Regions from separate parts of the Homo sapiens genome. Here region 1 is linked to region 2. Evidence: fine-mapped expression QTL. A gene starts in region 2. The other region holds a variant in brackets. All regions are shown on one strand. Distances are from middle to middle. Region 1 overlaps RUVBL1 (RuvB like AAA ATPase 1). Region 2 holds the start of LINC02034 (long intergenic non-protein coding RNA 2034).

Region 1 (5,373 bases), 580 kb before region 2:
CTTCTGAGTGACATCTTACTTGAGGGGACAAAAAAATGAGTCAAGCATTCTTCCAAATGCTAGCTTTACGCATCGCTATTGTGGCTGTGTGGGAGATGAAAAAAAGGAAAACAAGAATTAGAGACATGATTTTTATCTTCAAGGGGCTTACAGTCTCTCCAGGGCAGAAAGAAAGGAAATCATGACAGCACAGGAGGACTCAGTATGAGTGCTCAGCTTTGAGGTATTGACTAATATTAAATGCAGCTGGAATTTAAGGAGGCAGCACTGTGGGCTGGTACAGCTGGAAGGGTTGAGACTTGACATTTTCCCTTCAGAGCTGGGAGAGGATTTGGCTTTGCAGGGAAGATAAGGGCCTTTCAGGCAGAGGACACCGTGTGGCTTCTTGGGATTCGTGAGGGGACTGGCCAGATACTTGAAACTCACCAGAGTTCCCAATTTGAGCTTGCTTATTCTTCAAAAGGGCCGCTTGATGTGGGCAAGTAGGAGCTTGGGGTTGTGTGTGAAAAGAAATGGGCTTTAAATTCCAGCTCTAGTATTGACTTGCTATGAGACCTGAGGCAGGTCCCTTAACTTTTCTAAGCAAAAGCATACTCTACCTATTTCAAGCAATTATTAAACTGATCGATTGTAAGATAATGACTTGCATTATAATTTTGAAATGATTACTGATTGTGTATCTTATATTGGTATCTTACAAGAGGAAGAAGTGCTATATTTGTGAACAGTTTTTTCTCTTCCTATATAAAAGCAAATTGTGAACAGTTTTTTAAACTGTAAAGTGCCATACAGATGTGAGCTTCAGTTACCTCTCTCCAGGCAACATTAGCTTGTCCAGTGCATTTACCATTTATTTGCTTGCTATTCCTTATATCTTAGACCTTCTCTTTCCCTCCATTTTTCTTCTTCCTAAAGTAAATAATTTAGAAATTTCTTCTAGAAGTTTGTTGGTGGGAAAGTCTCTCACGTTTGCATTCATTATGTTGCCCTTGTTTTGAAAAAGAGCTATGTTGGCTATATAATTCAGTTGACAGATATTTTCTTCAGTACTGTTTCACAGTACTTCTCTCTCAATGTTATTTGCTCCTTTGGCTTCTGTTGTTTTTGAGAAGTCTAATTTTGAGGGTTTTGAGTCTTCTTTCTGCATGTTTTTGAGATATTTTTGGGTTTGGTGTTTCACTATTATATGTCAGAGTGGATTAATTTTTGTTTATCATGCTTAATGCTAATTGTGCTTCTTGAATCTGAGTATTATGTCTCTGCTCAATTCTGGAAAATTGTCAGCCTTAGGAGAATCGCTTGAACCTGGGAGGCAGAGGTATCAGTGAGCCAAGATCATGCCATTGCACTCTAGCCTGGGTGACAGAGCAAGACTACGTCTCAAAAAAAAAAAAAACAAAAAAACTGTCAGCGTTAATCTCTTCAGCTATTGCCTTTCCCCATTCTCTTTGTTCTTTCCTTCTGGAACTCCACTGAGATGAGGTTAAGATTGCAGTGGTTTTCAACCTGGGGCAGTTTTGCCCTTGCAGGGGACTTTGACAACGTCTGGAGACATTTTTGGTTCTCACGACTTGGTTGGGGGTGCTACTGGCATCTAGTGGGTGGAGGCCAGGGATGCTACTAAACATCCTGTAGTGCACAGAGCAGTTTCCATAATAAGGAATTATCTGGCCACAAACGTCATGGAGTCAAGCTGAGAAACCCTGGGCTAGAGCTTCTCGTTTTGTCCTCTTTGTCTTTTAGCCTCTCATATTTGTTATCTTTTTGACTCTGCTAAATTATGGGTAATTTCTTTTAGATCTTTGTTCCAGTCTAATTGTCTCTTAAGCTATGATTAAGTGACTGATTAATCCAATCTATTGAATATTTTTTTCCTTTTCATTTTGAAAAGTTTGGAACCTACAAAAAACTTGAAAGAATAGTGTGATGAGCCCCTCTATACCCTATACCTAGATAGCCAGTTATAAATATTTTGTGACATTTGCTTTTTCTCTAGTTTATTTCTGAACCACTTGACAGTAAGTTGTAAGGATGTCTTCCTACATGACCACGGTGCCATCATCAGACCCACCTTGCTAATGCTATTATATTCCCCCAATTTTTGTCAATTAAAAATTAAATTAATTAATTTTTAAAAAATGAGCAGCAGAGCCAGGGAGAGAATGGTGTCTCAGGAACCAAGAAAGGAGAACCTTTAAAGAAAGGAGTAGGTAACCATATCCACTGTGGTAGAGAAATCACAAAGATGAGGGAGCCTGGCAGCTCATCATATGATTCCATGAGCAGTTAACAAATGTGCTTTCAAAGACAACGAAGTTAAATTGTTTTAATGAAAAGAAAATATAGGTGATAGAAATCAGAAAACATCTTTCCAAGTTGTTTCAGTTTTTGGCTTTTTAAAAAACACCAGAATATCAAAATGCAATCAAAGATTACACACTGCATAAATTGTTACAAGTTATAATGTCTTTTTTTTTTTTTTTTGAGATGAAGTCTCGCTCTCTTGCCCAGGGTGGAGTACAGTGGCGTGATCTTGGCTCACTGCAATCTCTGCCTCCCAGGTTCAAACGATTCTCCTGCCTCAGCCTCCTGGGTAGCTGGGATTACAGGTGCCTGGCTAATTTTTGTATTTTTAGTGGAGATGGGGTTTCATCATGTTGGTCAGGCTGGT[C/T]TCGAACTCCTGACTTTAGGTGATCCACCTGCCTTGGCTTCCCAAAGTGCTGGGATTACAGGCGTGAGCCACTGTGCCTGGCCCCCAGATGTATTTTGTTATGGCCCACCTTTTTTACTCATGTGTGGCCCTTCAAGAGTCCTCTTTTATGTTTTTTTTTTAATTGTAATGTTTTTGTTTGTTTGTTTGTTTTTTGAGACAGTTTCAGTCTGTCGCCCAGGCTGGAGTGCAGTGGTCTGTTACCCAGGCTGGAGTGCAGTGATCTCGGCTCACTGCAGTCTCTACCTCTTGGGTTCAGGTGGTCCTCCCACCTCAGCCTCCTGAGTAGCTGGGACTACAGGTGCACACCACCACGCTTTGGCTAATTTTTGTAGTTTTCGTAGAGATGGGGTATCGCCATTTTGCCCAGGCTGGTCTTGAACTCCTGGGCTCAAGCAATCCACCTGCCTCGGCCTCCCAAAGTGCTGGGATTGCAGGCTTGAGCCACCGTGCCCAGTCCCGGTTTTATTCAGGGGTTTCTATCTTAAGTGCTATACCTTGCTGAGCTTTCCTGTATCTACAGTCTCTGAACTTTCAAGGCAAATAGTTTACTGCTCTGAATGTTATTATTTATTCAATTCTAGGTGTTTTGTAAGAGGAGAGGTTTTCAGTGGACCCAGTGTGCCATATTGCTAGAAGCATATGTCTTTCATTTTTTTTGGTGATATTGTATTGCTTTCCTCCCAGGAAATATGAGAAGTGCTCAGCACTGTGGTATTACCTTATAAGTTTGTCCACTCCCTTCCAATGTGTATGAAGGAATTTGGTGACTTCTGCTTAATGGTTTGCTGCAGGGTCCCAAAGTTTAGGCAACTTACCTGGGTGACAGGCAGAAATACTGCTTATTTTAGAGATGCAAATGCATGGTTCATATGCATTTCCACTCTTGAGGACCTCACACTGTTAATAATGGGTTTGGGTTTTAGAAGAAGGAGATATTCAGATGAGATTGAAAAATAGAGATTTCTTCAACCTTCTTTTGGCAACAACCTCTTTTTTGTGCCACTTGTCACTCACATGGGGTGAGTACAAAAAAAAATGGCTTTGGAGATTGGGGTTTGCATCCTGGTGCTGCTGCTTGCGGTTTTACCTTGGGTGTGTTGGTAACTTTTGAGTTTGTTTCTTAATCTATAAAATACAAACTAGATGATCAAGGTCATAGGCTAGTTGGGGAGATTCGATGAGGTCTATGCAGCACTCTGTAGTAGGTGTAGGAATAGTAGCCATATCATATACTTTCCCTCTGGAAGTCTTTAAATGGAGGAAACGAGACACACATGAAGCTTTTTTTTTTTAACCAAGTATTTATCATATTTTAATGGAAGTATGTTCATCTCTTCTGTATTAGTTAAAGGGAGGGAGAGTGCCATTGAATTGGATGTGGTCACTGTCTTTGAAGTTCAAAACTGAGGGTAGGGAATTGGGGCTGGCAGAGATACAAGGAAGAGAAAGGAGTAACTGGGAAGGGGTGGTCCTGTCCAGCCTGTGGCCCCACGGGGAGTCTGCTGTTAGAGTGCTGCTCCTCTCATTGTGCCCTTTCATGTTCCAGAGATTTTTTTCCTTTGCTCTTAGAAGAATACCAGTTTTCAAGGTGTCAGCCTTGAGCTCACAAGTGCAGATGCCTAATGAGGCAGGCAACGGGGATGAGGGAAGTGGCTGGGTGCACTGTGGCGTGTCTGCCTTGAGCCCCAGGTGCTCGGCCTTGCTGAAGGTCACCATGAGACTGCAGGCCAAACAGAACCAGGCTGTGAGCAACGAGTTTGCCACTTGTGATCTAGCATGGCACTTTAGTACTTTCATTTGACAGATGAGGAAATCGGGCACCTGAGATTTGCTGAGTGCCCAAGGTCACACTGAAAATTAGTGGCAGAACCAGCACTAATCTTTCTGTTCCTGGCTAGTGCATTTTATACTGTGCTATACACTGATTCTCTACCAGATTTTACTACCTCAAAACTATCACCAAAAGGGCATAGAAAAGAAAATCTGAGAGGAACCTTGACTGTTAATTTTAAGACACCGTCTCAGTTTCACTTTGTTCTTCAGTAACAAGCTTGTTTTCAGTCTTAGCCCATATACCTGGGGAGCTGGCCTTACTCGTGCTCCTGTTTCAGAGTTGAGGAAAGATGAAAATGGCATTTAGAGGCCATGGCATTGCCCAGTTCTGTACCAACTTTAAAGCATTTGCTTGCCATACTTGACATTTGACCGTACACCTGTGAAGTCTGGTTCTGTTTAGCATTTGCCAGCTGTAATTATCTTGTCAAAAATCAATTTGTAGTTTACCACAGGGCGTGTTTAAGTGTAACTTGTTAAGACCAACTCATAGCTTCAAAATCCTACTTGAGGTATCCTTCTTCACTCTTTGTGGGCTACATAACATAAAATGAACAATCCATTCATTCATTCCTTCATTATTTCTGATGGGTTGTAGATTGGTGTTTTCCTGTATTTGTAAAAAGAGAAAGCAGGTATCTCAAAGATCCAGTGGTGTATTCGGAGCAATTAGGTCAGAGCCATATATTGATATTGAGAGAACAATTTTGGATGACTGTAAAGTTGGCCCTTCCTATCTGTGGGTTCCACGTATGTGGATTCTGCCAACCACAAATCAAAAATACTCAGGAAAAAAACAATAAAAAATAAAAATACAATAACAAAAA
Region 2 (5,373 bases):
CTTTGGCAGAGGTCAGTCTTGGTTCTATTGAGGCCTTTGACTGATCGGATGAGGCCACCTACATGATGGAGGGTAATCTGCTTTATTCAAGGTCCATTGGCTTAAATATTTTTTCTATCTAAAAAAATACATTTGTGGAAATGTCTAGACCAGAGTTTGACCAGAAACTGGGCAGTGTGGCCAGGCCAAGTTGATGTACAAGATGAGGCATCACAGAAGCCTTCCTAATTGGACAGCATCTGTGGGGGTGCTCGGACCCCCCCCCCGCTCCACCGCCCCATCCGCCGGGAGTCAGCACACCCAGCTGCAGAGAGCTGCCTCAACTGAGGTCGCTCCCCTCCCTATGAGCAACCGGTGCAGCTCCCCGGGGCCCTCTGAAGGGCCATCGATCTTCAGAATCTCTGCCTGCGTTGCTGGGGCTTCTGTTGTAGCTCATCACAGCTCCCCGCCAGCCCTGCCTTCTCTTGCCCTTTCTGTCCACAGTATCAACGCAAGAGCCCTCCCTAAGTAACGTCCTGCATGTTCACCTCCAACTCAGGGTCTCTTCCCAACCCTAGCCTGCGACGGGGCCACCTTCATAGCTGGCTTTCTTCTTCATTGTGTTCTGTATCTGACATTTCTTCTCTCACCTGGCTGGCTGTGCATCGTGGGTCTTCTGCCCTGGGACATGGGCTCCGTGGGGCAGTGCTGTGTCAGAGTACCCCTGCCATGCCCCTGGCACCTCTGTCACCTGCTACATGAAGGGACAGATAAACCGGCAGGTGTCTACTCTCAGGCTCTGGTCGAGATGCAGGCTGAACTTCTGGGATGCCTAGGGAAGCAGGACCCTTGGGCAGGACCCCGGTCACAGGACTTGGATCTGCAGCAGGCCTGCATCTACACACATGATAAAATGACATAGAATTCAACATGTGCATTGTATCAATGTCAATGTCCTGGCTTCAGTATTGAATAGCTACATAAGATGTTACCACTGGGGGAGACTGGATGAAGACATCAAAGGACTTCTTTATATTATCGTTGCAACTTCCTATACATCTGTGGTTATTTCAAAATTTAAAAATTAAGCAAATAAGGTTAGGATGCAAAATTATATTCTTTATTTTGATTGCATCCCTATGTATTCATAAGAATAATGATCAAGAGAGTCCAAAGAATTGTATTTAGAATTTTTTTAAGTTAATGGTGAAGGTATTGTTTTTGTTATTTATAATTTTATTCACCTTTCTAATAAATAATTATTGGGGGAAAAACTAGTTCCATGTGATATAAATATATATGAGAGTCTGTGAACACTCACTCATTCATTCTATAAATATTTATTGAGTGCAATAACAACAGAAAGCCTTGAACATCTTCAGCAATTTTCAGCAGTTTCCCGACCTGGGAGGCAACAGTAACATCCTACTTCCCTGAAAGCTGGCAGTAAACTCCAAGTCCCAACTTTTGATGTTCCAGCCCTTCCAATGGTTGTATAAACCCCTGACTCCCTGCCCTAAACCTTTTTCCATTGGGGGCCTCGTAAGGTGGCACCTAGCCCCACTAACACGGCATGTGTGTGTGTGTGTGCACCTGCACCTGCACCTGCACCTGCACAGGAGTCAGCTAGAAAGCACAAAGGCGAATGTGTCACTCCTGTGGCATGGGACCATGAATGGCCTCTGTTTGCCCTCTAGTTCTCTGGCTGGGAACTCAGAGATGTCCCTCCCTGTCCAATCTCATCTCCTGCCACTCCCCATACTTCCTCCCCAGCAGCTCCGCTCCAGGACATTGATAACTGTGAATAGAAGACAGTCGTTGGGAGATTTCACCGCAATCTGAATGACCACTCACTTTTTATCTCCACACAAGACTGTGAGCCCCTTGAGGATGGAGGCTCAGTTGCATTTTTCTTGGTACCACTAGAAATCAGCATTGAAGTTGGCAAAAAGTAGGGATCAGGGATTTTTTTTTTCTTAAATTCATGAGTGAACGCTGTCTCCCTGGTCAAACTGTTTTCAGAGGATTGAGATAAGGAGGCATTTGTCTGCAGGTTCCCATCTCCAGAGCAGAGGCTCTGCATGATGTCTTCAAAGCCAGATTGGATCCCTACCCCGGTCTGGAGTGTGAGCTAGAGCCTCGGCCCTCACCAGCATATGCTATAGCAAGGGCTCTGGGCAGGGAGGCATCAAACCCCAGGTGCTCAGGGGGACTCTGCTCCCCTCCATTTTTTCTAGAAATGTACCAGGACCCCTTCCCTGTGCTGGGTGCTAAGGATACAGCAGCAAACAAAATAGGCTGTCCCTCTGTCTTCACGGGCACAATATTCAGCCAGGCTCTTTGCCTCAGTGTCCCCAAGTGTTAATTGGAGACAGTAGCTCTTATATTGTGTGGTTGCTGCAAGGGTAAAATGAGTTAGAAGACATCAAGGGCTTAGAACGGTGCCTGGCACATAGTAAGTGCTAAATGAATCTGGCTATTATTAGATCATGGAGCTTATTATTAGATCACGGGTGAGTCAGAGGATAGACAATCAGGGAGTAACTAGGACCATCTTAGAGTGAGCTAAGTGCCTCAGGCGAGATAATGCAGAGGTGGGGGACAGAGTGGGTGGGGAGGGGAGCCGCCATACAGTGGCCAGGACCAGCTTTGCCCAAGTGGTGGCAACCGCATGACCACAGGAACGATGGCGTGAGCCCCGTGGCAACCTGGAGGAAGGGTGTGCTGGGCAGGGGAGGGCGGTGCAAAGACCCCAAGAAAGAGAGTCTGGCCCATTGGCCAGCACGGCTGGAGTGTGGGGACAGGGCAGGGGTGTGCGGGGGAGACTGGAGTCCCAGGAGAGGCCAGGTTGCAGGGCATTGAGGGCCAGAGGAGGCACCTGGGCCTGTTCCATTCCCAACCCTCAGGATGGCCCACCCATTACCCACAGCTGCACGTGAACGTCCTTTGGCGCTGGCCTCCAGGGTGGGGAAACCAGGTTCCTGCAGAGAGGGGCAGATCTGAGTGTCCCCCGCCCTCGCCTGGGTGCACTCAGGGTCAGGCCTGGTGCCCGCAGAGTCCATCCCATGCCTCATTACCCCCGGCTGGCTGAGGCCCACCCTGGGCTCCTGGTGGGTGGGGGCACTTCTGTGAGCTCCACCACTGTGTCTGTGAGCCCAACCCCGACCAGCCCCCTCCAGCTTCTGGGGCCTGCAAGGAGGAGGAAGGCCAGGGTAGAGGGAATGGAGAGAGACTGTTCCATGCAGAGGGGTGAGCCACCTTCTGCGGTGGAGGCCAGGAGCAAGGATATGCTCTGAGCCTGGTCTGGGGCCCCTCCCCCACTTCCCACCTCCCAGCTCTTCCCTCCTAGAGACACCTTCTTTGTCTGCAGAGGCCACTGCTTTGATTCTGTTGTTGCTAGGTGATGGGAACTGGGGGGAGCAAAGAGTGGGGAACTGGGCAGGGTCTGGCGGGGCTGTGGTGGGGGAAGCTGAAGCATGAAGGCTCGAGGAGCACACAGACACCTACACACAGCTCCGCGGGCATGTGGGGACCCAGACCCACCCCCACAGCAGACACCCCCACAGAGCACTCATGGCCCCCACAGAAATACACCCACACTCATCACAGCAAACCAAAACAATCACACGCCGGTACACAAACACACACACCCCCGCACCAATCCAGGCAGACACAAAGCTCACGGCGACAGGCAGATCTGATTCACACAGACACAGGCACAGGTGCTTCCTGATGCCACCCTCTCTTGGTCACGTGCCAGCACTTGGAGGGAGGAAAGTGCCTCACCAGGCTGAGATGCCCAAGGGACCCCCCAGGGAGGGAAAGCAGGACACACTGGGACAGTTGCTTCCAGCCCTGTCCACACCCTTGTGCCCATCAGGTATGCCGCTCACCCCCACCCCACCTGGACCTTGGTGTCACCTAGGATTGCAGAGGCCGCCTTCAGCCCAGAGCCTGGGGCCTTGCCCACTGCCTCACCTCCCAGGATAGGGCATGCTGTTCCTTTCTCCTTCCCTTTCTTTGCTCTTGTGTGCCTGCCTTTAGCAAACGCCCACTGGGTGTGTGGGTACACTGCGGCCTTTAAAGAGAAGAGAAACACATGAGGCTTACAGCAGGAGGCCCTGCCTAGGTTCCAAGGGACATGGAGCAGGGTGGCTGTGTAGAGCTGGGGAGCATCCCAAGCCTGTGCCAAGGTTCCAAGGACAAAAAGGGCAAGGAGGCCCAGTGCGGGGTGGTGGGGGAGCAGCTAGCCAGGGCCAACAGTGAGCCTCGCGCCTGGGCAGGTGTAGCCTTTAAACGCGGTGGGGGAACCATGGACAGCATCTAAGCAGGGACGTGCCGTGAGTCCTGGGGGTGCAGGGGTGTCTAGAGGGGAAGCTGGGAAGCAGGGGTCACAGCTTTCCGACTGGTGGCTGAGTGTGGGGAAGACAGGAGGGGCAGGTGTGAGATGTACAGCAGACACAGCTGTGTGCTGGGGCATGGTGGGCTGTGGTGAGAGAGAGGAGCAGGTCTTCTCCCCGCGTGTTCAGAGCAGATCCAAACTCTTCTCCCATTCCTTCCTCCACCGTGCATCCTCAGCACCCCTCAGCACTGGCCTGTGTGGGCAGCGTGAGCACAGAGAGCAGGAGCTTGCCCTCAGAGGCTTCAGGGGGTCGCTTGTACCCAGTGGTATGGTCAGCATCATGTTTGACCAAAGGGAGGAAGGTGGCTGTGACCAGAGCGAGGGGGGGTCCTGATGCAGCTGGGGAGTCAGGCTCGAGTGCATGCTGTGCATGTTCTCTGCCTCTCTTCCTGGGGGGCAGGCGAGTCTCCAGAGCCTGGAGGACAAGTTAGCCTTGCGAAGGATAGCAGAGGACCCAGCCCAGGGGTCCCCAAAATGGAGCACCAACCCTCCATGCAGGCCAAGCCACTGGTGAATATGCTGCAAAAAATATGCTGGAACTTCTATGAATACCACAGGGTGTGAGAAGAAAACATTAGAACTTCTATTTTGTACCTGTGTTACTCCACAACAAGAAAGCAATCAGCTTGATCAATGCCTACTGTAAAGACGGCACCGCCCTCCGGAGGTCCTTTCTCAGCCCTGGTGTTCGGACAGCCACATCCCCTCGCAGCAGGGGGAGGCCTGAAGCATAGAGGGGCCCATGCAGGTCTATTCTGTTTCAGCGAATTGCCTGGGTAAGTGGATTTGTGGATTATAGTCTCTGGTTTTAATTAAACTAACCCTAACAAAATGAGCAAGTGGCTTAAGAAGTTTCATGTGAAGGAAATGTGTTTTGAAGATAATGGAAGCAAGAGCTTAAAACAAGAAATGGTAACTCGGCACTCTTCTTCACTCCTGGAAGGAGCCACTCAGGGTGCACAGTACTAGGTAAATACAGCGTCTATGGAATC

What was found. PIP is the estimated chance that this variant, and not a neighbour inherited with it, causes the effect.
Region 1: its variant is the best candidate, but not a certain one, in a credible set for the expression of LINC02034 in cerebellar hemisphere (GTEx, PIP 0.70).

The regions. Positions count from the first base shown.
Region 1 is chr3:128,113,640-128,119,012 of GRCh38, reverse strand. The region is part of intron 2 of RUVBL1 (RuvB like AAA ATPase 1); the gene reads left to right. Among named protein-coding and RNA genes, the nearest start is that of RUVBL1, 7.5 kb to the left of the region's middle. The variant C/T (reference allele first, on the strand shown) is at 2,672.
Region 2 is chr3:127,534,970-127,540,342 of GRCh38, reverse strand. It overlaps LINC02034 (long intergenic non-protein coding RNA 2034), which reads right to left and starts at 2,994. Exons shown (of 7, transcript XR_007096067.1): 1 at 2,907-2,994; 2 at 2,260-2,376; 3 at 1,834-1,991; 4 at 630-876; 5 at 1-58. It overlaps LINC01471 (long intergenic non-protein coding RNA 1471), which reads left to right and starts at 2,563. Exons shown (of 7, transcript NR_125397.1): 1 at 2,563-2,670; 2 at 4,880-5,157.